Linked DNA regions of Homo sapiens: all the other regions are linked to region 1. The links come from fine-mapping of genetic effects on gene expression. A gene starts in region 1. Each other region holds a variant in brackets. All regions are shown on one strand. Distances are from middle to middle. Region 1 holds the start of NUAK2 (NUAK family kinase 2). Region 2 has its middle 34 kb from the start of NUAK2. Region 3 overlaps DSTYK (dual serine/threonine and tyrosine protein kinase).

Region 1 (10,237 bases):
AGGAAGGTGCTAGCCAAGTATTATTATAAGCAGCCCCATACTATGGCCACGGTAGCCTGCTTGAGCATAATTTCTGATTCTGTCCCAGTGGTTTTCTTGCCCCTGCAGTCCTAAACATTGGAAAAGGCAGCAGGGTTAATTCCTCATTCTATTTTGCAAACAGCACACACTGAAGTCCAGAAAGGCACACTGACTTTTCCAAGGTTCCACAACACATCAAGACACAATCAGGACTGAAGATGGAAGGATGGTGCCTGGAGAAGCTTCCATCTCAGCCATAGAGATTTCCCTGCCTGCCTCCCATCCCTGGAGAAGGGAATGCCCCATATCTTGCCCTAGGCCAGGCTGTGTAGTATCACCAGCCACCCCATCCCACTTACAGATATACAAATATGCCCACTCCTCTGCCAACACCCTGGAGAGGTAGGTGCTGTGGCTCAATTGGTAAACACTGCCTCCCTCCCAGGGACTCAGATCAGGAACGATCTGGATTCAGGAGAGGATGGTAGAAAGGTCTTAGAAAAAGAAGATCCAGAGATGCTGGTTCCAGGTGGAGGGAGAGAAGGTGCAAGCTGGGCATCTCTGGTCATAGTTATCACCCAGAGCTGGAGCCAAGATCCTTGATTTCTCTCTGGCCTTTTGTGGAGCAGCTGCTGTCTGGGAGGCAGGGCAAGGAGCTAGGGGATGACCCATTTAGATAACGGAGGAGAGGTTGGGCTGGGTTGGCCCAGGCTGGGCAGAGTGGGGGTGGGCCTAGGGGTGGCTCGCCATCCCACCACACCAGCCAGAGAGCTAGGCAGGGATCAGGAATGGGCTCCAAGGGGAGCCTGAGCCACCTCCCTATACTGTGCTGCCCCCTCCTTGCCATCCTCCAGCCCCCTCTACCGGGTTGCTGGGCAAGGAGCTTCCCTGCCCAGCCTTCTTGTGTGGTTTGGCTGGGGCTCAAGGACAAGAGTGGCCTGCAGCCTCCCTCCCTGCCGCTTAGCAGGCAGGTGCAGAGGGAGCTGGGAGGGCAGTGTCCTGCCAAGCAAGCCCTTGGCAGCCAGCCAGGCAGGAGTCCTTCTCTGGAGCTGGGGCCGAAGGAGAGACGAGGACTTTGAACAAAGCAGCAACCAAAGTGGTTTGGCTTAGGGAAGCCAAGCACAATCCATACTCTTTCTCAGGGTAGGACAGACCTCCAGGACGCAGGGATTCCCCAGGAAAGGGAAGGGCAGGACTTCATCAAAGCCAGCCTTGCTGGGATAATAACACTGTGTGTGTCAGACACTGTGCTAAGCACTTTACATATGCTATCTTACTTAATCCTAAGAGAATCCCACGAGGTAGGAATAATTATCACCCCTACTTTACAGATAAGGAAACTGAGGTACAGAGAGGTTGCACAGCTGGTAAGCAATGGAGCCACGATTTGAATGCTTGCAACCTTGACTGTCAGCTAGGCAGCATCCCCAACAAGGTTTGAAACCCAGGAATATAGTGTAGTTCACCCACCCAGAATCCTTCAACACAGTCACTGTATGTGAGGGTGGGGGTTGGTTCCCAGTGACTCTTCCCACCTGAAGCACTGCCTGTAGTGCTGGGAAAGACAGCGGGAGCTAACTGTTGGAATAACAAAGCACACTGAGGCAAGCCTGGGCTCATCTCAAGACCAACTCCCAGTCTAGGACTCAGTACTTGGTCATCCAGGAGCCCATATTGCAGGCATGCCACTCACCAGCTACAGGATAAGTCACTTCCCCTCTTCGGGCCTCAGCTACTCTATCTGTCAATGAAGGACTCGGACCACCTCAGTCATTTCCAAACATTTTGAAATCCTGCACTGCACTCCAAAACATAAAAAAGACAGAAGCACTCTTGCTCCAGAGCACCATACACTTGGACTCACGGCCCTAATGGTTCCCCTTGGAGGTAAGACTTCCATGCAGATCATCCAAAGGCTTTGGTGGACTCCACCATTTCAGAGACCCCAGCATGTGTTTTTCTCTTTAGGGGAAGGGGTGGCCAGGGGAGCTGGGTGAGTCCCAGGAGGAAATGTCATTTGGATACCAGGAATGTATTGAAGAGCCAGAGCAAATATTTGTTTTTCCTTTGATGTCCTCCTAGAGCAGCCATTAGTTCCGCCCACCTGCCCTTCCCTCAGCCAATCCCATCTGGCCCTGATAATCCCATCTAGGCAGGTTGGGAGCGGGAAGTGTGCTAGAAAGGTGGAGAGAAAATTGGGATGGAAGTCACCCAGCTGGCTTTCCTCTGAATCTAGCTCCCACCAACAATCTCAATTCATTCTAGGGGAGGTCTTGGGCAAGCTCCCACACCCCTCTCCCGCACTGAAGTATCCTGAGGCACTAGGTCTCTCTCGATTCACGAAGGACAGTCAAGAGGCAGGGGTGGGGTGGGGTGGGGAAGAGGCAATGCTCCAGAATTGAGAAACCATTAGCACAGCAGGCAGCTGCTCTCCAAGAAGGAAGGAGACCCTGAGCAAGTTCCCAGCTGCAGAACTGGGTGGTCTATGGATCAGGGAGGTTCACAGCAGGTCCCATGCCTACTGATCTTGGCTTCCTACATAGAGCAAGAGGCATGAGGCCAGGGAGTATCTTCTGATGTAATAAGAGCTGGAATCCCTGCCTAAATCCACTTAAGTTTGAAAACTGAAAGCTAGTTTATCTCATTCTGGAATCAAATGAGATCTCTCTCTTACTCTCTCTCTCTCATGCACATCCACACACACACCCCACAGTGACCTGGGTCAAGAGCCTGATGGGAACTCTGAACTTCAATCTCAGTTTCTCAGTCTCTGGGCCACCCCAGTCCCCACGACCCAGTGTCTCCACCCCCAAGAGGCACGAAGCACAAGCCACCAGCAGCTATTTTCCAGCTAAGCCCCTGACAAAGCCTGGGTCCAACAGCCTCAAGCCTGGAGCCTCACCGGGCCCTCACACTTTGCAGAAAGAGAAAGAAAAGGCAAGCCAGGAAGTACATGATTGCCCAATAGCTGTAACCTGGCAGCAGGCAACTGGGGACTGTGCCAGGCGATAGCAGGAAAAACATACTCGGTCCTATTGATGGGGCCATAATCTACCCCTTTCTCCAACATCCACTCTCCTTCACCAATGAAATGACTTCTTGAATTTCAAACCAGCTACTGGCTGCAAAAGCAAACACAATCTGGGGAAGTAACTGCTGATGTAGCCAATAGGGCAAACCATACACACACACACACACACACACACACACCCCCTCACAACCAGCACCCAACTGGATTTGGCAAAACATAATAATGCCTAAACCACCTGCTCTAAAAGGCTTGTTAAAATATACATTATATGGCCCTATCCTAGACCTTCAGAATAAATTACTCTGGGTGTGGAACCAGAGAATGTAAGTATTTTAAACAAACATCCCAGGTGATCCTTACGTACTTTAAACTCAAGTTTGAGAACCAGTTAACCACTGCTAACTAACTTTTGACAAATTTGCCATCCTTTCTGGGCTGCCCTTTCCAGAAATTCTCACTGCAAGTTCTTTTTTTGTTTGTTTCGTTTTGTTTTGTTTTGTTTTGTTTTTGAGACGGAGTCTCGCTCTGTTGCCCAGGCTGGAGTGCAGTGGCACGATCTCGGCTCACTGCAAGCTCCGCCTCCTGGGTTCAGGCCATTCTCCTGCCTCAGCCTCCCGAGTAGCTGGGACTACAGGCGTCCGCCACCACGCCCGGCTAATTTTTTGTATTTTTAGTAGAGACGGGGTTTCACTGTGTTAGCCAGGATGGTCTCGATCTCCTGACCTCACGATCCGCCCGCCTCGGCCTCCCACAGTGCTGGGATTACAGGCGTGAGCCACCGCGCCCGGCTATCTCACCGCAAGTTCTATGTGTTAGGAGCAATATAAGTTCATATTTCGATCTTATTCAATCCTCACAGCAGCTTGTGAGGCAGGCTGTGTTTTCTACAGTTCTGCAAAAGGGGAAACAAAGTACAGAGATGAAGGAAATTGCCCAAGGTCACACAGACTGCTAGACTCCTACGCTCGCACCAAAGTAACAGGGCATGTTCTTGAAAAGGCCCCCAAACCGAAAGGTGTCTCTGGTACAGTGGACCTGGTTTCACATTTTCCAGAATCAAAAACTCATCATAATGAAATTTCAACTAAATTTTAGAGCTGGAAAGGACCTAAATGTCAAAACCCACCCCGTGCCAGAGCTCCAGTGTGCTGGGTTGCCAGATTCTTGGAGTTGGGGAAATCCACACCTCATCCATTCATTCAACCACACACATATTTACCAAATACCTATTAAGATGGGGTGCCTTCTACTTCCTCTTTCCATTGCACTCTATTGAACAGTCTTTTCCCAGCAAAACTCAACTTAAGTCCCATCCATCTTATCCCAGGACACGACACGATTCGTTTTTCCGCGCCAACTATCCATAGCCTCCCTTTTATTTGGCAATCATCACAGCAGTACGGTGTTGCTGGCTGGGGTTCGCAAGTTTGCGACCACTGTCCCTGCAATCACGGACTGACACATCTGCCAGGGACACCCCGCAGTAGCCCCGCAAGCTCAGCGCGGTAAAGACCACGCTGGCCTCTCCGCCGAGCAACGAGCGAGCCGCCGCCCGCCCTCCTCCGCTCCCTGCCGGCGGCCAAGCCGGAGCCCGCCCCGCGCCGCGAGAGGGAGCCGCACTCACCAGGCGCCCCGAGCTCTCCCGCGCCTTCTTCACCTTCCCGTAGGTGCCTTTGCCCAGGGTCTCCAGGAACTCGTAGCGGTGCCGCAGGTTGTGCTTGTGGTGGTGCCGCTTCACCGCCTGCTTCTTCATTAGGGGCTTGGGCGACTTGATCAGCCCTTCCGCCAGCGGCCGGGCTAGCTCTGCGGCCGAGGGAGTGGGGCCGGAGCGCCGCGCGAAAACCAGCGACTCCATGGCGAGCAGGAGGTGAGCAAGGGCGGCAGGGGAATCAGTAGGCTGTGCGGGGAGGGCTGAAGCGCGGGGCACAGGTCCCGCACCAGGACGGGGAGCCACAGCAGTACCAGAGCGCGCAGTAAAGCACAGCATTCCAAGTTGTTATAAACGCCCTGAGCCCGAGGCCCTGGACACGCCCCCCGGCGCCCATTGGCCTGCTCGACGGCGGCGCGTGACCACGGCCGTCCACATTGGCTCTCCGGGGCTCCAGGCCCCGCCTCCTCCCCCTCGGCGTGGCCGGGAAAGGTGTCAATGGAACCCGCCCACCAGGAATGGGGACTAGGGGATTCCAGCGAAGGCCGCCTGAGGCCCAGAAGCTTACTCTGAGGGCCCTTGGAGCTGCACTTGCCTCTGAGTGGCGCTTGGTCCTGCTTAATGCCCTGTTGTTTTATTGTACTCTGTTCTCAGTTGGCAAGGGGCGATCTGAGGGCACTAAAGGTCACCAAAGTATTTCTTCATCCTGAGTAATTTGCTTGTCCCAAGCCAAAATCTATAATTGCTTGACCACTTCATTGAGTCCATAAAGGAGAAAGGGAGCTGGGATGGAACAGAGGCAGAATCCAGCCTAGTGGGAGGGTTAGTGCAGAGCTGTCCTATGGTTCGAGTTCACTTGTCTTCAGTTAGATCAACCTTACTTGGATATTGGAATCCAATGGCCCTGGAAACTTCTTCCTTCTTCCTCAAAGAGGGCTTCTTAGGCGAATCGCTTGAGGTCCAGGAGTTCAAGACCAACCTAGCCAACATGACGAAATCCCATCTCCACTAAAGATACAAAATTAGCCGGGCGTGGTGGTGCGCGCTTGTAATCCCAGCTACTCTGGAGGCTGAGGCAGAAGAATCGCTTGAACCCAGGAGGCAGAGGTTTCAGTGAATCAAGATGGCGCCACTGCACTCCAGCCTGGGCAACAAAGTGAGGCTCCGTTTCAAAAAAAAAGAGGGCTTCTAAGGTTTAGTAGATTCCCTCAACCACTTAGTGGAATTTATTTAGGATGTGTCGGCTGGAGGTGGAGAGAACCCGAAGGGATACATATTTATTTAACATTTTTACATGCCGACTATCTAACCTGTGTCCCTAAGTCTGAAAATGGTTGCTCCACCCAAGGTTTTCTTGTGATTTTGGTGCCAGGAGCACTGGTGGTAGGTTATGAGGTTTGACTTGAGACGGAGTCTCCCTCTGTCGCCCAGGCTGGAGTGCAGTGGTGCGATCTCTGCTCACTGCAAGCTCCGCCTCCCGGGTTCACGCCATTCTCCTGCCTCAGCCTCTCCGAGTAGCTGGGACTACAGGCGCCCGCCACCACGCCCGGCTAATTTTTTGTATTTTTAGTAGAGACAGGGTTTCACCATGGTCTTGATCTCCTGACCTCGTGATCCGCCCGCCTCGGCCTCCCAAAGTACTGGGATTACAAGCGTGAGCCACTGCGCCCAGCTTGACTTAGTTTTTGAGGCCTGGAGTTGCTAGGTCCAGAATCTCCACTCTGAGTGCTCATTTACAGTGAAATGAGAATGGCCATAGGTTTTCCTTCTTGCTTTAAATGGCAGAAAGGGAACATTTCCCCTTTGGCCATCTTGATAACCTAATCCTGTGAAATGAGTATTATTCTGTCCAAGGCCACACAACTGGTAATAAAGTGGCGGGATTTAGACCCTGGTCCTGAGGAAGAGAATAGAGGACAATAGACCTGGATCCTCTTCCCTGAGGGAAACCCCTTCTGCCAGCCAGTTTAGGGCCCTGGATGGATTCTAGCTATGCTGGAGAGCCAGCCTTCCCCTCAGGCCTTCAGGAGGATGGTGCCTCCCCTGTGTATCCAGGGCATGCTGAGGATGGAGAAGGACCCACCCCCAGTGGCTGCCCACTTTTCTACTTCCACTGATCCTTTGATTATTTTTCTAGTGTGAGTTACAGATGTCTCCATCCCTCCATGGAGCTCTTTATCTCCTTTGTGACTGGAGAGGATCCATCTTACACAGGAAACCAATGTATCGCTCCCAAATTTGGAGGGCCACAGGAGGTGGCAGCTGGTTTGGCATTCTTCCCTCCACCAGCCTCCCCTTTTGCTGTGGGTTTTCTGTGCAAATAGGATGAGGCCCAGAGATAGTTGCCTTGACTTGCTATCTCCTTTCCCCTCTGAAATCTGCTTCTATTCCTGGGGGCTCATCCAGATGATTAGAATTCTCAAAAGGAAGTATGGATAACATAAGAGCAAGCACAGGGCCGAGTGTTGGGGGACCTGAGTTCGAGTCCTGACTCTGACACTAACCAGTTCTGTGGCCTTCTACTAATTACTTCATTCTACAAATACTGGTGCCCACTAGGTGCTGAGCCTGGGGACACAATCATGACAAGATTCCTGCCTTTGGAATGTTCTCAGTCTAGTGAGAAATAAACAAGTAAATCCTGTACAGAGGGAGAAGGGTCCATGATGGAAGAAGAACAGATTGCCTTTTCTTTTTTTTTGAGACGGAGTTTTGCTTTCGTTGCCCAGGCTGGAGTGCTGTGGTGTGATCTCGGCTCACCACAGCCTCCGCCTCCCGGGTTCAAGCGATTCTTCTGCCTCAGCCTCCTGAGTAGCTGGGATTACAGGCATGCGCCACCACACCCGGCTAATTTTGTATTTTTAGTAGAGACAGAGTTTCTCCATGTTGGTCAGGCTGGTCTTGAACTCCTGACCTCAGGTGATCTGCCCGCCTTGGCCTCTCAAAGTGTTGGGATTACAGGTGTAAACCACTGCGCCCGGCTCAGATTTTCTTTAAGATATGTATCCCAGGTGGGAGGAGGCTGGTCAGGCGCAGGTTCCTAAAGCCAGGACTTTTTAAGTTGAGACCTGAAGGACAAGTGGCAATTGGCCAGCTGAATCAACATTTCTTCATAAGATGAAAGAATTATACAGATGAGCTTAACGCTTCTTTTAAGGCTTAATCTAGCTACACTCCTGTAATTTTTTCCAGGTATCCCCAACACCCAGTGTGCTGCGAGGCACCTAAAAGTCGCTCCATAGATGCTTATGAACTGAAGGAATGGATGTGCGATGGAATCCAAAGATGAAACTAAAAGCACCTACATGTGATTGGGCCCACTCCATTACCAGCTATCTGGCCATGGTCGGGAGGGAATCATCTGCAACTTCTTGGACCTTCTCACCCCTGCTCCAGCTTCCTTTGACTACAATCTGAATTCCCATCTAGGTGAGGAGCCATGGGTGACCAAAGATCACAGCAGGTAGGCAAGGAAGACACAGAGCCAGAACAGCATGTGACTCGGAAATGATCTAAGCTGCTGAAACTCATATCTCAAATTCCTTAAAGGAGGTCTAGTTGGTGGGAAAGCGAGAGTGCCTGACAGGGAATCCGTGTTGGTCGGGGACTCTGCCACCAGCAGTCTTGGGGAATTCCTGGGTCATGTGGTCGGATGTGTGGATGTGCTGAGATATCTGGGCTGAGCTAAGCTACTCTCAATCCTGCCTGCCCCACTATTGACTCCTGGAAGGGAGACGCCTACCCCCCAGCCCCAAGTCCCATGGCTGATCCATGTCTGAGGGGGTCATGGGGGAAAGCTGTTTATTGGATCTACTATGTGCTGTGCTGGGAAAACAAGTGGGAACAAATGTCTGTCCTTGTCCTTACACACTTCACAATTTGTGTGTGTGTCTGTAGGGGAGTGGAGGTGGGTCCAGACTGGTAAAAGGGGATTTGAAAGCAGCTCAGTGTGTGGACTGCTGTGATGTGTCCTGGTGGGAGCAGGGTGCAGGTAGGAGCAGAGGTGAGAGGCACCAAGGCCATGCCATGGGGGTCACGTGAGGGTTGGGAGCAGGTAAGGCAGATCTCAGATACCTCTAAGATGAGTCTTGAGCCCTGAGGATGAATTACAGCCTGTAGTATTCCCTACCTCCCCTCCAAGAAAGGGATGCAAATCCTGTTAGTCGCTGGCAAATTGGGAAGCCTAGCTCAAAGCTGCCCTCTTCTGACCAAACTAAGCCTAGCATGTTTTATGGGATGCCCAAAGCTGTGACCACAAGCAGAAGTCGGCTTAGGCAATTTGTTCCTCCAGTAAACCGTTCATTTGTTCATTCATTCATTCATTCAACAAATATGGACTGAGTAATTGCAATAACAGCTATAATGATATCTAACATTTATTAAGCCAGCCCTGGTTCTAAATTCTAAATTCTAGTATGTCTTGCCGGAAGTTTGGAGAATTTGTGCCGCAAACACTGAAAACAGCCCTCAAACTCTCAATTACCCTGAGAAACCGAATGTTATTCACAGACCAGGCCTGGGAGGGGATGTGACTGAAGGAGAAGCTAGCTCTTCTCCCCAAGCCAAAGAGCTTGCCCTGTCTCCATCCTGGAATGGGAGGGAGAGCACACGCAGAGAGACAGGACGCAGGCGTGCCGGGGTCCAGCTCCACTTCCACCACCAACCCACACCATGCCATGGCCAAGGACTTTCTCTTTTAGGGGTGGTTCCTTATCTGTAAAAGGAGATTTGGATAAACCAACTCTCAGTTTTGTTTCAAATCTGCTTTAACTTCTCTGCAATATCTAAGCAGGGACAAATTAGAAACCTCAAGGGCTGGGCGCGATGGCTCACGCCTGTAATCTCAGCACTTTGGGAGGCCGAGGCAGGCGGATCATGAGGTCAGGAGATCGAGACCATCCTGGCTAACATGGTGAAACTCCGTCTCTACTAAAAATACAAAAAATTAGCCGGGCGTGGTGGTGGGCACCTGTAGTCCCAGTTAGTCAGGAGGCTGAGGCAGGAGAATGGCGTGAACCCGGGAGGCGGAGCTTGCAGTGAGCAGAGATCGCACCACTGCACTCCAGCCTGGGCAACAGAGCAAGACTCCGTCCCCCCCACCCAAAAAAATTAGAAATCTCAGCCACTCGCTTTCTTTTGCCACCTGGTAACTGATTCCTTCAGTACTGGACATTCAGGAGCCCCATTCCGTCTCGCATCCCCAGGCTGGCATAATGTTTTTGGCTCAAGAGTCTGGCAACCTGGGCTTCAGGCTCTGCTCTGTCACTAACTGACTGTGACTATAACTCATGTCTCCACCACTTCATGTATAAATAAGAATTATTCTTTTATGCAGCTAACATACTGTGTGTCAGCCACTGTTCCTTAGATTTCCTGTATTCATGAATTCAATCCTTTCTACAACTCTATGAAGTACATACTAGCCTATGATATCCCCATTGCGTGTGAGAAAAGTGACACAGAGCAATTAAGGGCCTATGCAGGGTCACAGAGTTGTCAAGTGGTGAAGCCAGATTGCCTGGGGTCCAATCTGGCTC
Region 2 (10,237 bases), 35 kb before region 1:
CACCTGTAATCCCAGCACTTTGGGAGGTCAAGGCAGGTGGGTCACCTGAGGTCAGGAGTTCCAGACCAGCCTGGCCAACATGGTGAAACCTCGTCTCTACTAAAAATACAAAATTTAACCAGGTGTGGTGGCACACACCTGAAGTCCCAGCTACTCAGAAGGCTGAGGCAGGAGAATCACTTGAACCCGGGAGGCGGAGGCTGCAGTGAGCCAAGATTGGGACACTGCACTCCAGCATGGGCAACACAGTGAGACTGTCTCAAAAAATAAAAAAAGAAACATTTGCTTCGTGTAGGAGCTGGGGTATCCAGAGGTGAGCTCGACAGACTCTGCGTGAACATCTTGAAATCTATCGGGAAAGACAGAGATGAAAATAGGTCAGTGACAAGAGAGCTTGGTAAGTGCCAAAATAAAGTCAGGATCTGAGGAAGAGTACAGAGCAACAAACTGCCAGAGGCGAGCTGGATCAGCAGGCAGAGCTCTCTCGGCTCCATGACACACCCATCATCACACACTTCACCCATCCCAGCGCCTCGTTAGCCTTCCAGCCAGAAAGTCTTTTTTTTGGGGGGGATAAGGTCTCACTGCAGTGCAGTGGCACCATCTCAGCTTACTGCAGGCTTGAGCTCCTGGGCTCAAGCGATCCTCCCACCTCAGCCTCCCGAGTAGCTGGTGGGACCACACCCACTAATGCACCCGGCTAATTGTTTTTTTATTGTAGAGATGAAGTCTCACTACGTTGTAGAGATGAAGTTCACTATGTTGCCCAGGCTGGTCTTGAACTCCTGGGCTCAAGCAATCTTCCCACCTCGGCCTCCCAAAGCAGAAAGTCCTTTCTGTTACCTCGTTTAAGTGTCCCTTGTCCAGCAGTGCCCAGTACACCTGACCATGGCCAAGGACCTCACCCTATGATCTCAGCAACTAGAAGACAAAGGGCTGTTAGGCTGGATGCGGTGGCTCACGCCTGTAATCCCAGCACTTTGGGAAGCCAAGGTGGGTGGATCATGAGGTCAGGAGATCAAGACCATCCTGGCCAACATAGTGAAACCCCGTCGCTACTAAAAATACAAAAATTAGCCAGGCGTGATGGCATGCACCTGTAATCCCAGCTACTCAGGAGGCTAAGGCAGGAGAACTGCTTGAACCTGGGAGGCGGAGGTTGCAGTGAGTCGAGATCATGCCACTGCACTCCAGCCTGGGTGACAAAGCGGGATTCTGTTTCAAAAAAAAAAAAGAAGAAGAAAGAAAGAAAGAAAGAAAGAAAGAAGGAAGGGAAAGAAAGAAAGAGAGAGAGAGAAAGAAAGAAAGGAAGAGAAAGAAAGAAGGAAAGAAAGAGGCGACTGTGGAAAAGGATGATTAGGGACGCTAAGGAAGGTAAGAGGTATTTTATCCTTTTGTACAAATTTGCCTCAGCCTCAACTCCTCATCTCTGGTGACAAAAACGTTTCTTTCCCCCCGGGGACAGGGAGAAAAGGGAGGAGGTCAGAGTTTGTCTTTTGTATCAGCTGTTTTTCAAGTGAGAGTAACCCTTATGCTGAAATGGCATATTTTGGTGTGGCATATTCTGTCCCTCTTCAAAGATACATGAGACGACATATGCAAAGCATTTTGCATTGTAAGATGCTTATTACTGTCACTTCACAGATGGGAAATGAGATCTAGGCAACTCTCAGGGTCCAGCCACCAGAAGGTTGAGGAATGCGGGCTCTAACCTACATCTGTCGACTCCAAAGCCACACAGCCGCCCACACAAGGTAGCTCTTTTCCTCACCTCACCCCCTGAGCTCTGGAACACCTTTGTTCTGCCCAAACGAGAATGAAGCAGCAACGGAGGCAGCGGCAGGGGAACTGTAAGGTGGCCCCAAACTCAGACTGTCCCCAAGTTGGAGGCCTGCTAGGGCCTGGGAGCACAGCAGTCCCCCACCAGGGAGTCTTCCCTTCCCCACCTGCCCACTGCAGACTGGGCACCCCTGCTGCATGTGTCTGACCTCTGTGAACCTCAGTTTCCCCAACATACAATAACCCTGACAGTCTGTCATTCTGTGCTTCTGTGACGTCAGCCTTAGGAGTTATCAGGGACCCAAACTTGGGCTTCACAGGGGGCAGGATGGAGGCCCTGCCACTCGGACCAGACCAGGTTGTGGTGAGGGGCAAGGGTGGTGCCTCCAGGCACCAATCCAGAGTGACCTCACTCTCTGCAGGCTCCCCTGGGGCCCTGAGGGAGGGTGGGGTGCTGGACAGGCCTGCTAGATGGGAGCAGGTTTGGAAGGAGGTTTAGGAAGGGTGCGGTGGGGAAGGTGTGCCGCTCAGGTTCAGTGTGATCACTAGAGAGGGGCACGCCTGCCTGCATCGTCTGCCATGCCAGACAGGGCAGGACAGCTTCTCCCCCAGCCTGGGCCTTTAGGATCCACTGTGTGACCATCCTGAGCCCCTTAGCAAGGTGTGAGCGGGGTTGGACACCCTCCCCTCAACATCCATCTAATGTCAGCCACCAGCCCTGCCTTGCTGCATGATGGGAAATCAGGGTAAGGGAGCCAAACCCCAGCTGCTCTCAGAGCTGTGAGGACAAGAGTGGAAAACCTGCCCTCACAGGCCCAGCTGGCCAGAGGGCTTGTCTCTTTCAGTCGCCCTCCCCCAGAGGGAGCAGGAGCAGACAATGGCCACCATGACTCACCAGTGAGCCATCTTCCCCTCCCCACCCCTCCAGCCTGGCCCATGACAGCTTAGCTTGTCCTCCAAGGGAGCTGCAGCCCAGCCTCCCAGGGCCGCCAGCTTCCTCTCTCTTCACCCAACCTGGCTCCCCCCCTGCTTGTGCAACACCACATCAGAGGGTTGTGAAGTGGAGAGGGAGGAGTTTGACAGCTGCAGACCCAGGCAGACAGAGCAGACTCCTTTGTGAAGGAGATAGAGGCTGCAGGGGCCCAAGTCCAGCCTGTACTCCCCTGCCCTGACCCACAAGGCATCACCCAGTCTCCCCAAACCCTAGGGAAGTGGTCATTGTCATTTATTTGTTCCTTTCTTAGATAGAGCTTGGATCCTGTCTGCAATTTATTCCTTCCTGCAAAACCAAGTATGTGAGGCAGAGGAAAGTCCTATTCCATTCCAGGAGGGACAGGGCTCCCTGTTGGAAAGTATTTCCTTTTGCTAAGTTTCTATCTGCCTCCCGGGTAGACTCCACTAGGCAGTATTTCAAGAAGTTAACGCACTTCCAATCCCCATCTAACCTATATTCTTTGCCGCAAGCCAAATACCCTTAGTTCTTTCAGTCATTTCTCCTAAGACATGGATTTAAGACCTTTTGACAGCTTGGCCTGTATCCTCTGGAAACATTTCCATTTACCCAAGTTCTTCTTAAAACATTATGTCTTTGTCCAGGTGCAGTGGCTCACGCCTGTAATCTCAAAGTGGAGGCTGAGGGAGGAGCATCAGTTGGGTCCAGGAGTTTGAGATCAGCCTGGGCAAGATGACAAGACCCCATCTCTAGTTAAAAAAAAAAAAAAAAATTACTGATTCTCACCAAAAAAAAAAAAAAAGCCAGGCGTGAAGACATGGGCCACCTACTTGGGAGGCTGAGGTGGGAAGATCGCTTGAGCCTGGGAGATCAAGGCTCTTGAGCCTGGGAGATCAAGGCTGCAGTGAGCTGTGATCACGCCACTGTACTCTAGCCTACGCGACAGAGTGAGACTCCATCTCTAAAAAAACGAAACTAACCAACCAAAAAAAAAAAAAAACCACAAAAAGCATGTTGTTTTGAACAGAGCGCAGTGCTCCAGCTAAGGTCAGGCCAGCACAGAGGGTGCTAATGAAATTCACCTCGCAGGCTCTGGCACTGTGGTTCTCATGAGCTCTGTTAGCTTGCCGGTATTTTCAGACCCACATAGGCATGTCCTTGTTGAGCAGGTCACTTCGGTTCATGAATACGGCCACCAAGGATTTGAGGCCCCTCTGCCTGCCCCCCATGGAGGGAGCCCTAGGGCTCAGATGGTGGCTCTTAACAGACCTCAATGGTCTGATGAAAACTCTGCATCCTCTTCCAAGAAAAACGCATCTACTCAAAAATTCTCTATATGACACCAGGACTCCCTGCAGACCATCCTCAGACCCCAGGTTAGGAATTTCCATCTGGAAGCTGATACTCAAAAATAAATTCTGAGGCAGCCTCCCTATTCAAACTGTGGGGCTCAGGGCAAATTCAAAGTAATAAAGTAATAACCTCTCACACGAGTGCTGTGCTCGACAACTCACAATACACGTTCACGTACATTGCTGGGATAGACCCTAGGGTCTGGATTATAATCGAATAAAGGAGGTCAAGGCCCAGAGAGGTCCAGTGACTTGCTCAAGGTCACACAGCCAATCTGGGCAAAGTCACTCCAGACTCTCTTACCTTCATGGGGCCTCACAGAAGCCCAACACAATTTGCCCACCAGTGGGGAAGATGCAATGGAGAACAGGTTGCATTTGGCCCCTGGGGAAACTGGTCCTGGCTGTGTTCAGCCGGCTCCTGCCGCTGCTCCACAGAGGCACACCCAGCTTGGCCTCTGTGGTGAGCTGTGGTGAGCTGTGGTGAGCTGTGGTTTGAGCAGCCTCCCTCCTAACGAAGGCAGAGAGAAGGCCAGGTTGTCAGGCTGTGTCTTGTGAGAAGGAGGGAACCAGAGGAGGGGCAACGGCAGAAACCAGACCTGAAGCCTGAACCCCAGGAACCCAGGGGACAAAGACTCCCTGGCCACCACTTGTCCCAAGACTGCAGACACCTCACTGGCCAGGAGCATACAAGCAGGAGTATACAATGTGGCCGGGGGTGCATAGGAGTCAGGATACAGAGCCATGTTCTGTGTGTATGATGTTCACATACAGGAGCCAGACTTGACCATGGGAGACCAGTTTTTAAGTTTCCAAGGAATTCTTGCTCCCTAAACATGTACTTGACCCAGAAAACTCTTCAGCCTTCAAGGCCCAACTCCCTCCACGAAGAATCTGTCCAGTGTCTGATGACTAAAGGCCCTGGATTCAGATCCAGCTTAGGCACCGCCTGGTCATTATCTGACTTCTCTACAGACTGTGCCTCTAGTAGGCTGGAGCCCTGGACTCAACTCAATATTTCACCCCTGCCCCTAGCAATAGGGGGTCAATGGACATTTGTTCAATAAGCTCTAGACACCAGAAAGGGTGAACTGTCTCTTGGCTTCAGTTGTTCTGTGACTTCAGGCTAAATCCAAAACCTCTGCGGTCAAAGAAGGCCATTGCCACCCCTCCCCACCCTGTTCCCTCTTAGGTGGAAGGCAATTGTGGCCCTTAGAAACCCTCTGAAGAAGCATCTAACAGCTTTTCTCAGGCCGAAATGGGAGAGGGTGAAGGTTTAGGAAAGAAAACGGTCATTCTTATGTCTTTCCCCAAACCAGATGATTTCCCTTTGTTCCAAACAGTTGGCAAAGACGTCTGGGCAGAGAAAGGGTCCTGACTTGATGCACTGCTCTGCAGGCAGCTGGGTGACTCCGGCCTCTGTTGGTTTGCAGCCTGGGCCAGGGCTGGGGAGTTGCTGAGGGGTGGGCTCAGGCTCACAGTAGGTAGGCTGCTGCTTGGGCTTTCAACTATTACCTCTGATCACAATGAATTCATGAATTTATATTAGTTTGATGCATATCTCTTCCACTGGACTTCCAACCTCTGGAGCGCAGGAACCACACTGTATTTAATTCTGGAGCCTCAGGGCCTGGCACAATGTCAAGCACACAGTAAGTGCTCAGTAAGTGCTAGAGACAAAAACGCACTGCAGCCTCCCTGCCAGCCTGATTTCTGGAGCATCCCTGACTCTCTTAATGGAAAGAGCTTCTCAGAGCTTCCCAAGCTGACTAGAGGAGGGACTGTCATGGTCATGGGCCCTGCTTCCCTCTTATAGTTCTCTTAGCTGGAAGGCAGGATCCTTCTCCTCTGAGCTGCTTCTGAGGCCACTTATTTGTTTATTTCCAAACCCAAAAATGCTTCTTAGGTTTTGCTGCCACCTGACTTGAAGCTCTGACCACCCCAGTGCTACTTCTGCTCTGCCCCATCCAGACATCAAGCGAGATTCATTCCCCCAGCCTCAGACAAACCACACCCCTATCACAACCGTAACTATTCTTAGC[A/G]GAGCAGGAAGGGGGGCGCTGCCGAATGACCTCGCTGCCTATAGAGACTTCACCTCCACCCACCCTTCACTCACCCGGTGTCACTTCCCCCTTTTAATAACAACAACACTGACACCAAGTTTCACTTCCACCACTTCCTGTGGGTTTTGTTCATCCTCAGCTGCTGAGGTTTCTAGAGGGTGGGTGAGTCTCTGGCCCAGCTGCAGGAAGGTCCCTCTGACTATAAACTCTACCCCTAAGCATTTAGAGGCTTGCCCTTCAGTCCTCAGACACATTCACCTTTCTTTTTTTTTGCTTTTTTTTTTTGTTTTTTTTTTTGAGGTAGAGTCTCACTCTGCTGCCCAGGCTGGAGTGCAGTGCAGTGGCACGATCTTGGCTCGCTGCAACCTCTGCCTCCCAGCTTCAAGTGATTCTCCTGTCTCAGCTTCCTGAGTAGCTGGGATTACAGGCATGTGCCACCATACCTGGCTAATTTTTGTATTTTTAGTAGAGGCAGTATTTCTCCATGTTGGCCAGGCTGGTCTTGAACTCCTGACCTCAGCCTCCCAAAGTGCTGGGATTATAGGTGTGAGCCACCGCACCTGGCCACATTCTCCTTTTTTTTCTTTTTTTTTTTTTTCCAGACAGAGTTTTGCTCTTGTTGCCCACGCTGGAGTGCAATGGTGTGATCTCAGCTCACCGCAACCTCCGCCCTCTGGGTTCAAGCGATTCTCCTACCTCAGCCTCCCAAGTAGCTGGGATTACAGGCATACACCACGACACCCGGCTAATTTTGTATTTTTAGTAGAGACGGGGTTTCTCCATGTTGGTCAGGCTGGTCTTGAACTCCTGACCTCAGGTGATCCGCCTGCCTTGGCCTCCCAAAGTGCTGGGATTACAGGCATGAGCCACCACACTTGGCCCACATTCTCCTTTTTTAAAGCTGTCCAGAATAGGGGATTCTCCATCCTTCCCTGGGTCAGAATCCCAATATCTGATCCAAGTTCATCCTGTTGACTAACCCAAATCTCTCCTGCTATTAGGGTTGCCATATTTTGCAAGTAAAAATACAGAACACAGAACACCCATTTAAATTTGAATTTCAGATAAACAATGAATAGAAGGCCAGGGGCAGTGGCTTATGCCTGTAATCCCAGCACTTTGGGAGGCTGAGGTGGGCGGATCATGAGGTCAGGAGTTCGAGACCAGCCTGATCAACATGGTGAAACCCTATCTCTACTAAAAATACAAAAATTAGCCGCGTGTGGTGGCGTGCGCCTGTAATCCCAGCTACTCAGTAGGCTGAGGCAGGAGAATTGCTTGAACCCAGGAGACGGAGGTTGTAGTGAGCCGAGACTGTACCACTGTACTCCAGCCTGGGCAAAAGAGCAAGACTCCGTCTCAAAAAAAAAAAAAACAAAAAAAAAAATGAATAACTTTTTAGTTAAGCATGTCCTGTGTAATATTATACTAAAAAAAAATTCATTGTTTATCGGAAATTCAAATGTAACTGGACATCCTTTCTTTTATCTGGCAACCCCCTGCCTGCTGTATTCCTTCTCTTTTTGTTTGGAGACAGTCTTACTGTGTCACCCAGGCTAGAGAGCAGTGGTGTGATCTCAACTCACTGCAGCCTCAACCTCCTAGGCTCAAGGGATCCTCCCACCTCAGCCTCCCAGATAGCTGGGATTACAGGCACATACCACCATGCTCAGCTAATTTTTGCATTTTTAGTAGAGATGGGGTTTCGCCATATAGCCCAGGGTGGTCTTGAACTCCTGGCCTCAAGTGATCCACCCGCCTCATCCTCCCAGAGTGCTGGGATTACAGGCGTGAGTCGCTGCACCCAACCTTGTATTCCTTCGCATGAAAGCAGCAGTTCTCAACCATTTTGATCTCAGGATCTCTTTACACTGTTAGAAATTATTGAGGACACCCAAAGAAGCTTTGTTGATGTGGGTGAATGATAGCTACTGGTATTTACCATATTAGAAAGGCAAACAGACATTTTAAAAGTAGTAATTAAGGCCAGGCGCGGTGGTTCAAACCTGTAATCCCAGCACTTTGGGAGGCCAAGGCGGGTGGATCACTTGAGGTCGGGAGTTCCAGACCAGCCTGGCCAACATGGAGAAACCCCCGTCTCTACTAAAAATACAAAAATTACCCAGGCATGGTGGCAGGCGCCTGTAATCCCAGCTACTTGGGAGGCTGAGGCAGGAGAATCGCTTGAAGCCGGGAGGTGGAGGTTGCGGTGAGCCAAGATCTCACCATGGCACTCCAGGCTGGGCAACAAGAGCAAAACTCCATCTCAAAAAAAAAAAAGAAGAATACAAAAATTAGCCGGGCATGGTGGCACATGCCTGTAATCCCAGCTACTCAGGAGGCTGAGGCAGGAGAATCACTTGAACCTGGGAGGCGGAGGTTGCAGTGAGCCGAGATCACGACACTGCACTCCAGCCTGGGTGACAGAGTAAGTCTCAAAAAAAGAAAAAAAAGCAGGAATTAAGATAACAGTAATATCTCATTATGTACATATGTACAAAAAATAATTTTTCAAAACAAAAAAAATTATTGAGGAGAGTGGCATTGTTCTACATTATTTTACAAATATTTTTTGATTTTTCAATTTTAAATTATGTTAAAAAACATAACATAAAATTACCATCTTAACCATTTTTTTTTTTTTTTGAGACTGAGTCTCACTCTGTCGCCCAGGCTGGAGTGCAGTGGTGCGATCTCAGCTCACTGCAAGCTCTGCCTCCTGGGTTCAAGCGATTCTCCTGCCTCAACCTCTCGAGTAGCTGGGACTATAGGTGCCCACCACCACGAGCGGCTAATTTTTTGTATTTTTAGTAGAGACAGCGTTTCACCGTGTTAGCCAGGATGGTCTCAATCTGCTGATCTCGTGATCCACCCGCCTCAGCCTCCCAAAGTGCTGGGATTACAGGCGTGAGCCACCGTGCCCAGCCCATCTTAACCATTTTTAAGCATATAGTTCAATAGTGTTAAATATATTCATCAATTGAGACCAGAAGGTCAAGGCTGCAGTGAACCATGATTGCGCCACTGCACTCCAGCCTGGGCGACAGAGTGAAACTCTGCCTCAAAAAAATAAATAAATATATTCACACAATTGTGCAGAGGTAGATTCTTATACCTCCAACTGCTGCATTTGGTATGTTGTAATATCACACACCGTGAATCTCTGGAAAACTCCACTGTACACTCATGAGAGAATGAGAGTGAAAAAGGCAAATGATGTTTCCTTATTATTAGTAAAACAGTTCTAGGCCTATAATCCAGCACTTTGGGAGGCCAGGTTGGGTGGATCACTTGAGTCCAGGAGTTCGAGACCAGCCTCGAGGGCAACATAGTAAGGCCCTGTCTCTACAAAAAGTACAAAAAATTAGCCAGGGGTGGTGGCACGTGCCTGTGGTCTCACCTGAGCCCAGGAAGTCAAGGCTGCAGTGAGCCATGATCACACCACGGCACTCCAGCCTGGGTGACAGAGCGAGACCCTGTCTCATAACACCACCACCACCAACAACAAACCCCACTTCTGACTGTGTGTACCTTCTGAAAAGATTTGGGGAGCCCCCAGGGGTTCCCCCAGGGGTTCCTGGACCACACTTGGAGAACCAGTGCTCTAGCACAATGCCAGAGACTTCAGTGGTGATCGGTATCTACTCCTTTGCCCCGCAAGTTAATTTGGGATGGGGGATGATGTGACACCACACACATAATTTAATGTAATTCCAAGCTGTTCTTTTTTCTGAGATGAGTGGTGCAGATGTGGGGAATCTTGGGGCTAGAGAGACTGCCCCAAAAGGCCTGGGTATGGGACTCAGTTGTGAGGTGGACCAAGCTGACTTAGCTGTGAAGGACAGAACTGCAGTTCTGTGTTCCTGGAGCCTTAAAGAGGCATCTAAAGAAAGTCAACCCTGCTAGGCGGAAAGACAGAATGGGTGAGCCTGGTGGGAGGCCAGGGTCAAGGAGCCAGCCGTGTGCTGCCCACCCCACCCCCAACCATGACTGGCGAGGGAGGGAGTTGACCAACTCCACTCCTCACCCCTACCTGGCATCTGTCTGCCTATTCTTTTTTTTCCCCCTTTTTGTGGAGAATGGGGTCTTGA
Region 3 (10,237 bases), 160 kb before region 1:
CAATCAGATGTCAAACAATTATGAAATATAGAAGTTGGAAAGTCATGTCCTTCTGTCATTTGTTCCTAAAATACTATATAAACATACAAAATTCCTACTCCTATTATCTTTCCTCACTCTGAAATGGGCAGGAATTAACTGAGCTCACTCCATTCTCCCGAGAGTTAGGAAAATATCCACATGAAAAATTTATTGAAAAAACTTCCTATAACAATCTAGAAAGAAAATATACTGATGATTTTAATATACATATGTGTGTGTGTGTATATATATGTGTATATATATGTATACACACACAGACACACACACATATTATATATGAAGAGCGGAGAGCGAAATATTCCCATCTGGATGAGGCTCTTCTCTGCTTGATCCAGCTGTATCTCCTTTCCTACATACCAACCTGCCGCAAGGAGGCTGCAAAAGCCTCGTGGGAACTATTGAGCCGAGTCCGGAATTGGCTGCAAATGCTCTTAGCCAATTTGGAGGCGCTGAGGCTCTCAATGGCTTCCTGGGCCACCTTCCTCTTCCATTCCAGAGTGATGGCAGGTGGGCTCACCCATGTGATGCGCTGGATGATCTACCAGGATGAAGACAGCGAGATCACCAAGGAATGAGAGACAAGAACCACTACAAAGATCCAGTGTCCTTCCTTTTCTGGGTTACCCATTCATTAAGAGCAGGCTCATAAGATGGGAGCCATACGAAGTCCAAAGTTCCTTTCCAATTCCATCTACCACAAAATCAGGTCCTAGCCCAGAGAAAAGCATCAAAGAACACCAGGCCTAGTCTACATGCTCACAAACCCTCAATATATTACATTCAGTGCCAGGGAGTGCCTGATAATCTTTCTGAAGTCAGTAAATAACTCTACATAAGAGCCAGATCAAATTCCAGAACAGAAACCACATTCACAGCCTCTGGCAACAACAAAGCCTAGTTCTGAGAAAAGATTTAGGCTGGGAAAAAGAAATATGAAGAAGCTAGTGTGGTAGAGTCTTATGGCTCCATGAAATATCATTTATCTTTTTTTTCTATTTTTCCATTGTCCACAAAGAGCACCCAACATAAAAATCATTTAAACCCAAAACTTCTGAGAGTTCAAGGGAACAATGTTAATAATTATTTAAGAATAGGCATAAACCAGAATTCTCCCAGGCAGGCAAACCAGAACAAATGGTCACCCTGCCTTAACAGAAGATCCTAGATATCTGTTTCCTACTGGGGTCACTATGATTCATTTGAGCCAACTAGGGGCTTTGAAATCTTTCTCTAAGTAATAATCCCTACCTGTTTGATTTGCTCCCATAGCATCCTTGTAACTGACGACCCTGAGTGAAACGTGACTTCAACATGATAGGCAGCATTTAAGATCTGAAAGAGACAACGCCAAAGAAAACATGTCCTCAGTAGTGTGGCTATTTTAAAAATGCAATAAATGATACTTATTTCAAGAACACAGTCCAGACTCAGGGTTTCCAAACTTACCCCTCAATATATATGCAGAGTCAACTTAAGCTGATTATTTATTTTGTGACTATCTAGCCCCTTCTACCTCATCTTTATATTCATCAACTTATTTTTTTATTTTTTTTTTTATTTTTTAGACAGAGTTTCACTCTTGTCCCCCAGGCTGAAGTGCAATGGCGTGATCTTGGCTCACCGAAACCTCTGCCTCCCAGGTTCAAGCGATTCTCCTGCCTCAGCCTCCCAAGTAGCTGGGATTACAGGCATGCACCACCACGCCCAGCTAATTTTGTATTTTTAGTAGAGATGGGATTTCTCCATGTTGGTCAGGCTGGTCTCCAACTCCCAACCTCAGGTTATCCGCCCACCTCAGCCTCCCAAAGTGCTGGGATTACAGGCGTGAGCCACTGTGCCTGGCCTATATTCATCAACTTAACTGCAGTTTTACAGCTCACCAACATCTCCCACAGGCAGTGGTCATGTGACAGGAAAACAAAATAAAATTCAAACAAGATTCGCAAGAAGCTGAAAGGGAAATTCTTGCCTAATTTGAAGTGTGGACTTGTGCAGATTTTTCATGTGCTATCTATGACACGATGTCTTAAAAATCATTCTTTGTCTACCTGTTTGAGATAATTACTGGTGATGTGAACTGAGACATCCTGAGACTTCTCCAGGCTCTGCAGACATCGTTCCAGGGTTCCGACGAAGCTTTCCCTCAGGTAATCCACTGAGCTGATCAGCTTATTAGCCACTGCCTGATTAAGTCGGGAGATGATGAGTTCCTGGATCTGTCGGATGCAGCATTTGATCTCTCTGGTGCCTACTGGTTCTCCATTCTCAGGGACAATGACGTCTATGGAGGCAGAGAAATAAGCTGAATAGTTGTGAGGAAGAAGGGGCAGACACACTAAATAAAGTCATCTCCCAAATCAGAACCATGGAACTACCGTGATGATGATGGCTGCAAAAAGACATGATTCGTTGATGATGTCTAACTCTCACAATGATCAGGGGTCACGTAACCCTCAACTACTAAAGGCAGCTAAGATCCTGAGAAGAAGCAATTAAGTCCAGGTGCAGTGATTCACGCCTGTAATTCCAAAACTTTGGGAGGCTGAGGCAGGAGGATTGCTTGAGCCCAGGAGTTCAAGATGAGCTTGGGTAACAGTGAGACCTCATCTCTACAAAAAGTAAAAAGATGAGGCAGGCGGGAGGATGGCTTGAACCTAGGAAGTAGAGGCTACAATGAGCTGTGATTGTGCCACTGCACTCCTGCCTGGGTGATGGGAGTGAGACCCCGTCTCAAAAAAAAAAAATAAATAAGAAGCAATAAGTCTAGAATGAGACTGTTGATTTTGTTAGCTTTTTTTTTTTTTTGAGACGGAGTCTCGCTGTGTCGCCCAGGCTGGAGTGGAGTGATGCAATCTCGGCTCACTGCAAGCTCCGCCTCCCGAGTTCAAGCCATTCTCCTGCCTCAGCCTCCCGAGTAGCTGCGACTACAGGCACCCGCCACCACGCCTGGCTGATTTTTTGTATTTTTAGTAGAGACGGGGTTTCCCCATGTTGGCCAGGATGGTCTCGATCTCCTGACCTCGTGATCTGCCCACCTCGGCCTCCCAAAGTGCTGGGATTACAGGTGTGAGCCACCGTGCCCGGCAATTTTGTTAGCTTTTATGTCACATTTATAGGAGGGGAGGAACAACATTTATGAAGTGCAAACTATTTGAAAGGCACTAAAATAAGGATTTTACACATGTAATCTAATTTCATCTTCACAATAACTTTGTTACATGGGTATTATAGATCAGGAAACAGCCTCAAAGAGAGAACAAAGTAGACATGGGAAGGGAATAGTACAGTTAGGAAGTAATACAGCCAGCTTTTGAACCCAGTGCTCATTATTCCAAATCCTATGATCTTTGCAAAATTTCACACTCCCTAGCATATTAATGAGAAAAACCCAAGAGTCAGGAATTGTATTCTATGTTTTGTTTTGTTTTGCTTTTTTTGAGACTGAGTTTAGCTCTATCGCCTAGGCTGGAGTGCAGTGGCACGATCTCGGCTCACTGCAACCTCCGCCTTCTGGGTTCAAGTGATCTTGTGCCTCAGCCTCCCAAGTACCTAGGATTACAGGCACCCACCACCACGCCAGACTAATTTTTGTATTTAGTAGAGATGGGGTTTCACCATGTTGGCCAGGCTGGTCTTGAACTCCTGACCTCAGGTGATCCGCTCACCTTGGCCTCCCAAAGTGCTGAGATTACAGGCATGAGCCATTGCCGCCGGCCAGGAATTTTATTCTAATCAATTACTAGATAAATAAAAAGTAAAACTCAATTGTCCCCACCATGCCACACTATCTCTTAGGATTAGAACATCTATTAATGTTGTAAATCAGAGGACAGAAGAACTTGAGAGAAGTCAAACTACTTGCAAAAAGATGTGCTCCTGAAAAGGCACTCTCATGTCTACTGGTGGAAACTTAAATGGGTGCCACTTCTTCAGAGGAAATTTGGCAATATCTATTAAAATGTTCAACCAACCAAGAAAAATCTACATACCCTTTGATCTAACTATTTTGCTTCTAGGAATTCTTTTTCTTGAGATATACCCTTACAAGTCCCAAGGTGTATATGTACAATGATGATTAATGCAGTACATTTTGTATTAGCGAAAGAGAAAATAAAAAATAAACAAATAAGCCTGGCCAACATGGTGAAACCCTGTCTCTACTAAATACAGGTATGATGGTGTGATGGTGCACACCTTTAGACCCAGGTGTGATGGTGCACACCTTTAGACCCAGCTACTAGGGAGGCTGAGGTGGGAGGATTCCTTGAACCCAGGAGGCGGAGGTTGTAGTGAGACTAGACCAGGCCTCTGCACTCCAGCCTGGGCGACAGAACAAGATCCTGTCTCAAAAAAAAATAAATAAATAAAAATAAAAAACAAAAACAAACAGCTTAAATGTCCACCAATGAGAGAATAGTTCAATAAATTCAGGCATATCCATTAGAAGAAGACAAATTTGTATGAATATTTATGGAATGCCCTCTAAGATACATATTAAATGAAAAAGACAAGTGCAGAAGAACATATGGAGAAGAACTGGGTGGCTGGGGGATGGTGTCTTTATAACTCTGAGTTAAGTACTATACATATAGGTTTTATCTTAAAAATAAATTTTATAAAGTGTGAATATCATGATACCTAGCACATATGCATTGTCTTTATTTAAAAACAGACAGTAATAGTAATCTGGCTCAACGCTGGGCACGATGGCTCATACCTGTAATCCTAGCACTTTGTGGGGGCTGAAGCAGGAGGATCGCTACAAGCCTGGGCAACACAGCAAGACCTCGTCTTTACAAAAAAAAAAAAAAATCTGGCTCCATAGAATATGTGCTAGCTTGCTTCTAAATCTTCTTATTGTTTCAAGGATACTCAGAAAGCACTTAGAACAAGGTAAGAACAATCGGATACTTTACTGTCTGCCCAACCTAGCTGTCCTGACCTCCATTCTGTGTAATATGATGCCGGCAGTGATGCTCTGGTGTCTTTAATCAAATATTGAGAAGACTTCCTAAGATTTCCACTGCAAGTAACACTTCTCAACAACTCCTCTCGCAGTGGGGAATTAACCAAAGAGGTA[T/A]CTCTGTTCATCTTTAGAATGACTATAAGAAATCAGGCAACCTATGTTTGCTAAAGTCAACCATACTTCCTTTGTATTTATAAGTGTAACTTAAACTAGATACCATCATTCACACACTCATTGATTCTCCAAAGACGTACTGTATACAAGAGTCTGTGTTATTTGCTGCAAGGAATATGATGATGAATAAGACCCAGATCCTACCCTCTTTCAACTCTAGGATTTTAGGAAGTAGTCCGCAGTACATAAATAACTATAATAAAAGATAGAAAGTGAAATATGCCAGAAATAAGTTACAGATGGAATGCTATGGGATTTCAAATGACTGCAATTGTTATTAGCTAAGAAAATTAAAGCAGGGCTAGGTGTGATGGCTCATGCCTATAATCCCAGCACTTTTTAGGAGGCCGAGGTGGGAGGATTGCTTGAGACCAGGAGTTCAAGACCAGCTTGGCCAACATGGTGAAACCCCTGTCTCTAAAAAAAAATACAAAAAGTTAGCTGGTGTGGTGGCATGTGCCTGTAGTCCCAGGTGTGCAGGGGGCTGAGGCAGGAGGATTGCTTGAGCCCAGGAGATTGGGGCTGCAGTGAGCCATGACTGCACTACTGCACTCCAGTCTGGATGGCAGAGCAAGAACCTGTCCCAAAAATAAAAAAAGAAGGAGAAAATTAAAGAAGACTTCATGAAAAATGGCATTTGGGAGACAGGCCCTGATGGGTAGGTAGGATTTGGAAGTTCACAGACAAATCAAAGACATTCCAGGTTTAAGGCAGGGTGTTAGCAAAGAAAAAGTAAAGGGAGCGTATGGAGGACAGAAAGAAGTTAAGACCAACTGACATAGAAAATACAGGAAAGTGCATAGTGGGGAAATAAGACTGGAAAAGTTGGTAAGGGCTAGGCTTTGGGAGGTCTTTAATACTAGGTGTAGGAGTTAAACTTAGTCTGTAGAAGTAGGGAGCCAGTAAAGGTGAACTGAAGAAAGAAGTCAGGGAGATCAGTTAGATAACAATAGTTCAGTTAGACTTAAGACAGAATAGAAAAGCATAGATAGGTATCGAATACGTAAGAAGATTAATCGAGGCCAGGTGTGGTGGCTCACGCCACCCAGCACTTCGGGAGGCCGAGGCGGGTAGATTACGAGGTCAAGAACATCCTGGCCAACATGATGAAACCCCGTCTCTACTAAAATACAAAAAAAAATTTAGCCGGGAACGGTGGCACACGCCTGTAATCCCAGTTACTCGGGAGGCTGAGGCAGGGGAATTGCTTGAACCCAGGAGGCGGAGGTTGCAGTGAGTCAAGATCACGCCACTGCACTCCAGCCTGGGCGACAGAGCGAGACTTAATCTCAAAAAAAAGAAAGATTAATCAGTACTTGGCAACTGATTAGCCAAGGGAAGACAATTCAAGACCATGCTGAGGTTTTGAAGGTGGGTACCAGGAAGAAGGTGGCATCAGTAACTGGAAACAGATTAAGAAGCAGTAAAGGATGGAAATTAAGAATATGGGCTCAGGAATCAGACTGTCTGGATTCAAATCCTGCCTCTAATATTTACTAGCTGTGTGACCCTGGGCAAATTACTTACTCTTTCTAAGCCTTAGTCCCTCATCTAGAAAAAGGAAATAAGCAGAATCTACCTAGGGAGGTTATTTTTTAAAAATACTGATGCTGGGTCCCATGTCAGAAATCGTGAGTAAGTCTGCAGTCATCTTTAGTGGTCTTGAGCATGTGTATTTTCAGAAAGCCTCCCAAGGGATTAGGATACTCACAACTGAGACTCTAAAGGGTAACTTGCAAACCATGTCATTTTAATCTTGCATGGAGGTTTATACAGAAGTCAGTATACAAAATCAGCAGCATCTCAGACACCCAAAGACCTGACCAATCACTTTCACCCAATTTTGTTAGTAGCCATTTGTGAAGAATAGGACTGTCAAAAGGCTAAAAACACAACTTTGGGAAATCCTCCTGATGTGGGCTTCAGAAGCAGCCTGAAAGGAAATTAGACCATGAGACAAAAAGAACCAATAAAGAGGCATGAGCCATACTGCAGGAGCAAAGGTTAAAGCACAATTTACTAACATTCTCCAAGCAGCTCTTCTCCAGCTCCATTAGGGGTTGAGGGGGTACAGGCAGAAAGTGGAGATTACAGAGCTATTAGGATGAATTTACCAAAAGTTGAGCTAATGTTCTTGGGAAGGAATGAGGGTGGAATCTTCCACAATGATCTTTGAGAGCAAGAGAGGCCACCTTGGCTAAATAGTGGGCTCCTGCTGGTAACAGTGGGGTGGATGAAGTTACCCTGAGATTCCTTTAACCTTAGGAATTAACGTTCTTAATTTCCGGCTAGAAAATGGTTAGAGACTCCTCCCGTGCCAGCACCCCAACAAGCTCTCTGGGACCTACCTTTAAACTCCATGTTAGTAGCATCATCCAGAAGTTCCTCCTTCATGGTATTAAGTGTCTCAACAATCATATCCTTCATTTCCTCCTGCTTTCGGTTGGCAATATTCATCAATGATTCATACAACTCATTCTCCTTTTTTCGAGTATATTCCAGACGTTTGGGAGTGATCTGCAGGTCCCGCTGCATGTCAAATGCCTGGTTAATAAAGATGTCAAGGCAGTGGCAGTGCACCAGGTTCAGGGCCTTGGCTGCATCCACCAGGCGAGTCTGTAACACCTGGTGAGAAAATGTGCTCAAGTGTCTCAGCTTTTCACTCTGTTCCACCAACATGCTCTGAGCTTTAGTATCCTGGCCAGGAGCCCCACAGTTCCAGTGACTGCTGCTCAGATAGCCCAGGTCAATTAGCTGGCGATAAAGCGGTGATCTTTCGCTCTCCATTCTCCTGGTTGAGGAGTCTATTATCTCCGAGCCCAGTTTCGGCACTTTGAAAAAGAATACAGGAAAGGAGAAATACTTTCGGATTTCCTGAAGCTCTTGCTCATCCCTCTCAGAGAGTTCATCTTTGTGGAGTGCATAGGTTATCACAGGCAAGAAATCATTCACCAAGTCACCCAGAACATCCACTGTGGGCCGGAGGCCTTGGCATGGTGCTACCACAACGTCCACTTCCTGGAAGGGGAAGGGGGTCATATATCAGCGCCTCAGGGTCAGAACCAATCCCTGTCTCCCCAAAGTCCCACACTGAGACCAAAATCCTGATCTACAATGGAACAATTGGACTTCGGTACCCCAGCCATTGATCCACCTCCTTCCTCGGTTACCAACACTCCCTGGTGCAGCCTATGAAGGCAGGCACTCATCTAGAGAGAGTGAAAAAACAAAGAAGTAGAAAGGATGGCAACCCCTTTAGCCATCAGATTAAAAAAAAATTTTGGTCTCTGCCTTCCTTTATTGCTTAGACATTCCCACTGATTCCCTCTGATGAAGAATTAAGACAAATAATGGAAGAAAAAGGAATTGTAATGGAAATTATCAGACTGGGAGTGAGTCGACCTGGGGCACTCCTCCCCCTCTTGCTCTCCTCTGACACCTCCATCCCTGCCATTCTGACCTGGCTAACTCCTAAGCATCCTTTAAGTTTCAATGTATATGTTATGACATATCCTTATAGAGCCTTTCCTATCACACAGCCCCAACCAAGCACACTTTACTTCCCTCTTCTTAAGGTTCAACATATTTATAATCCACTTCTTTAAAACCTTTCTTTCCCCCATGGGTCTGTAAACTCTTTGAGGGCAGGGACTGGGTCTATTTTGCTTACTATCGTAGCTCCAGTGCCTAGCATGTGGTAAGTCCTAAATACTGTTGAATTAATCAATTAAGCAGGAAACGAAAAGCCAGGTTCACCAAACATTATTACTGTCCTGTTCTGAGTCTGTAGATATCCCGAAGTCTTAGCAACCTAAGTCTAAGAAATACCTTTAGGAATATGATCGATCACTTGGTATGGCAAAGACCAAGGTTTGCCTATCCAATATCTAGTCTCCATGTTATAAGTGAAGGCAATGTCCTTTACAGATAGGGGTATCCGATAAGTGGGTGGGGTTTCCAGGAAAGCCCTTTAGGGTACAGGGGGTGGATTCTACCAGGAAATATGTCCTTTGGCCTTGTCCTTCTTCCTGCTTGGAGCACAGATGTGACAGCTAGAACAGCAGCGATCACTCAGCAGCCCTAAGGCAAACCTGATGGTGGAAGCCAGCACTAAAGATGATGACACCAAAAGAAAGAGGGAGCTTAGGTCTCTGGTGATCACAGAACTGCCATGCCAGCTCTCAGTTACCTAGCTTCAGACTTCTTTCATGTAAGGAAAAAAAAAAAAACCCAAAAACTCTATCTTTAAGTTCCTGGTTTTTTTGTGTTTGTTTGTTTGATGATCTGTTACAATTGAACCTAATCCTAACTGAAATACCCAAGTTTGCTAAAGTGAGTTTCGAGAATGATCTTTAAGCTCGGCGCAGTGGCTCACACCTGTAATCCCAGCCCTTGGGAGTCCAAGGCAGGAGGATCGCTTGAGGTCAGGAGTTTGAGATCAGCCTGGCCAAGATGGCAAAACCCCATCTGTACTAAAAATACAAAAATTATCCGGGTGTGGTGGTGGGCGCCTGTAGCCCCAGCTACTCCAGAGACTGAGGCAGGAGAACGGCTTGAACCCAGGAGGCGGAGGTTGCAGTGAGCTGAGATCGCCCCACTGCACTCCAGCTTGGGCGACAAAGCAAGACTCTGTCTCAATTAAAAAAAAAAAAAAAAAAAAAGATCTTTGAGGTTTGAGGTTTAGAAACAAACCTTCCACAGGTCCTTTGCCTCGTCTGCACTTTCCACTTTGTGTTCTGCTTCTTTCCTGTGAAGGTTCCAAACACACAAGAGCATATGTCCATCTACTGCATTTCCATCCATTGCACAGGTTGTTCCTCTGTGTCTCTGACATTGTCTACTTTGCCTGGCATTCCAGGTGTAAACGGTTAACTAGGGACTCACACATATTAATATATTACCACTGTAGGTACACAGACTCCTGATGTCTTCAAGGGTCTGTAAACTCAGAATCAATCCTCCATAGAATTCTAGCATATTTTAGAGTTATAAAAGAACTCAACACAAATATGCTCAAGTTTGTGTCCTTAACAGTTATCAGATGTTGAATATTTA

What was found.
Region 2: its variant is fine-mapped to the expression of NUAK2 in whole blood (TOPMed, PIP above 0.99).
Region 3: its variant is fine-mapped to the expression of NUAK2 in whole blood (INTERVAL, PIP above 0.99).

Annotation. Positions count from the first base shown.
Region 1 is chr1:205,316,722-205,326,958 of GRCh38, forward strand. NUAK2 (NUAK family kinase 2) reads right to left here and starts at 5,024. Exons shown (of 7, transcript NM_030952.3): 1 at 4,677-5,024. The coding sequence starts at 4,907. RefSeq lists a silencer at 4,531-4,710.
Region 2 is chr1:205,282,194-205,292,430 of GRCh38, forward strand. No RefSeq gene overlaps it. Among named protein-coding and RNA genes, the nearest start is that of NUAK2, 34 kb to the right of the region's middle. RefSeq lists enhancers at 2,305-2,404, 9,488-9,727. The variant A/G (reference allele first, on the strand shown) is at 6,126.
Region 3 is chr1:205,161,633-205,171,869 of GRCh38, forward strand. It overlaps DSTYK (dual serine/threonine and tyrosine protein kinase), which reads right to left. Exons shown (of 13, transcript NM_015375.3): 3 at 7,531-8,200; 4 at 2,091-2,323; 5 at 1,291-1,374; 6 at 404-580. Among named protein-coding and RNA genes, the nearest start is that of RBBP5, 45 kb to the left of the region's middle. The variant T/A (reference allele first, on the strand shown) is at 5,123.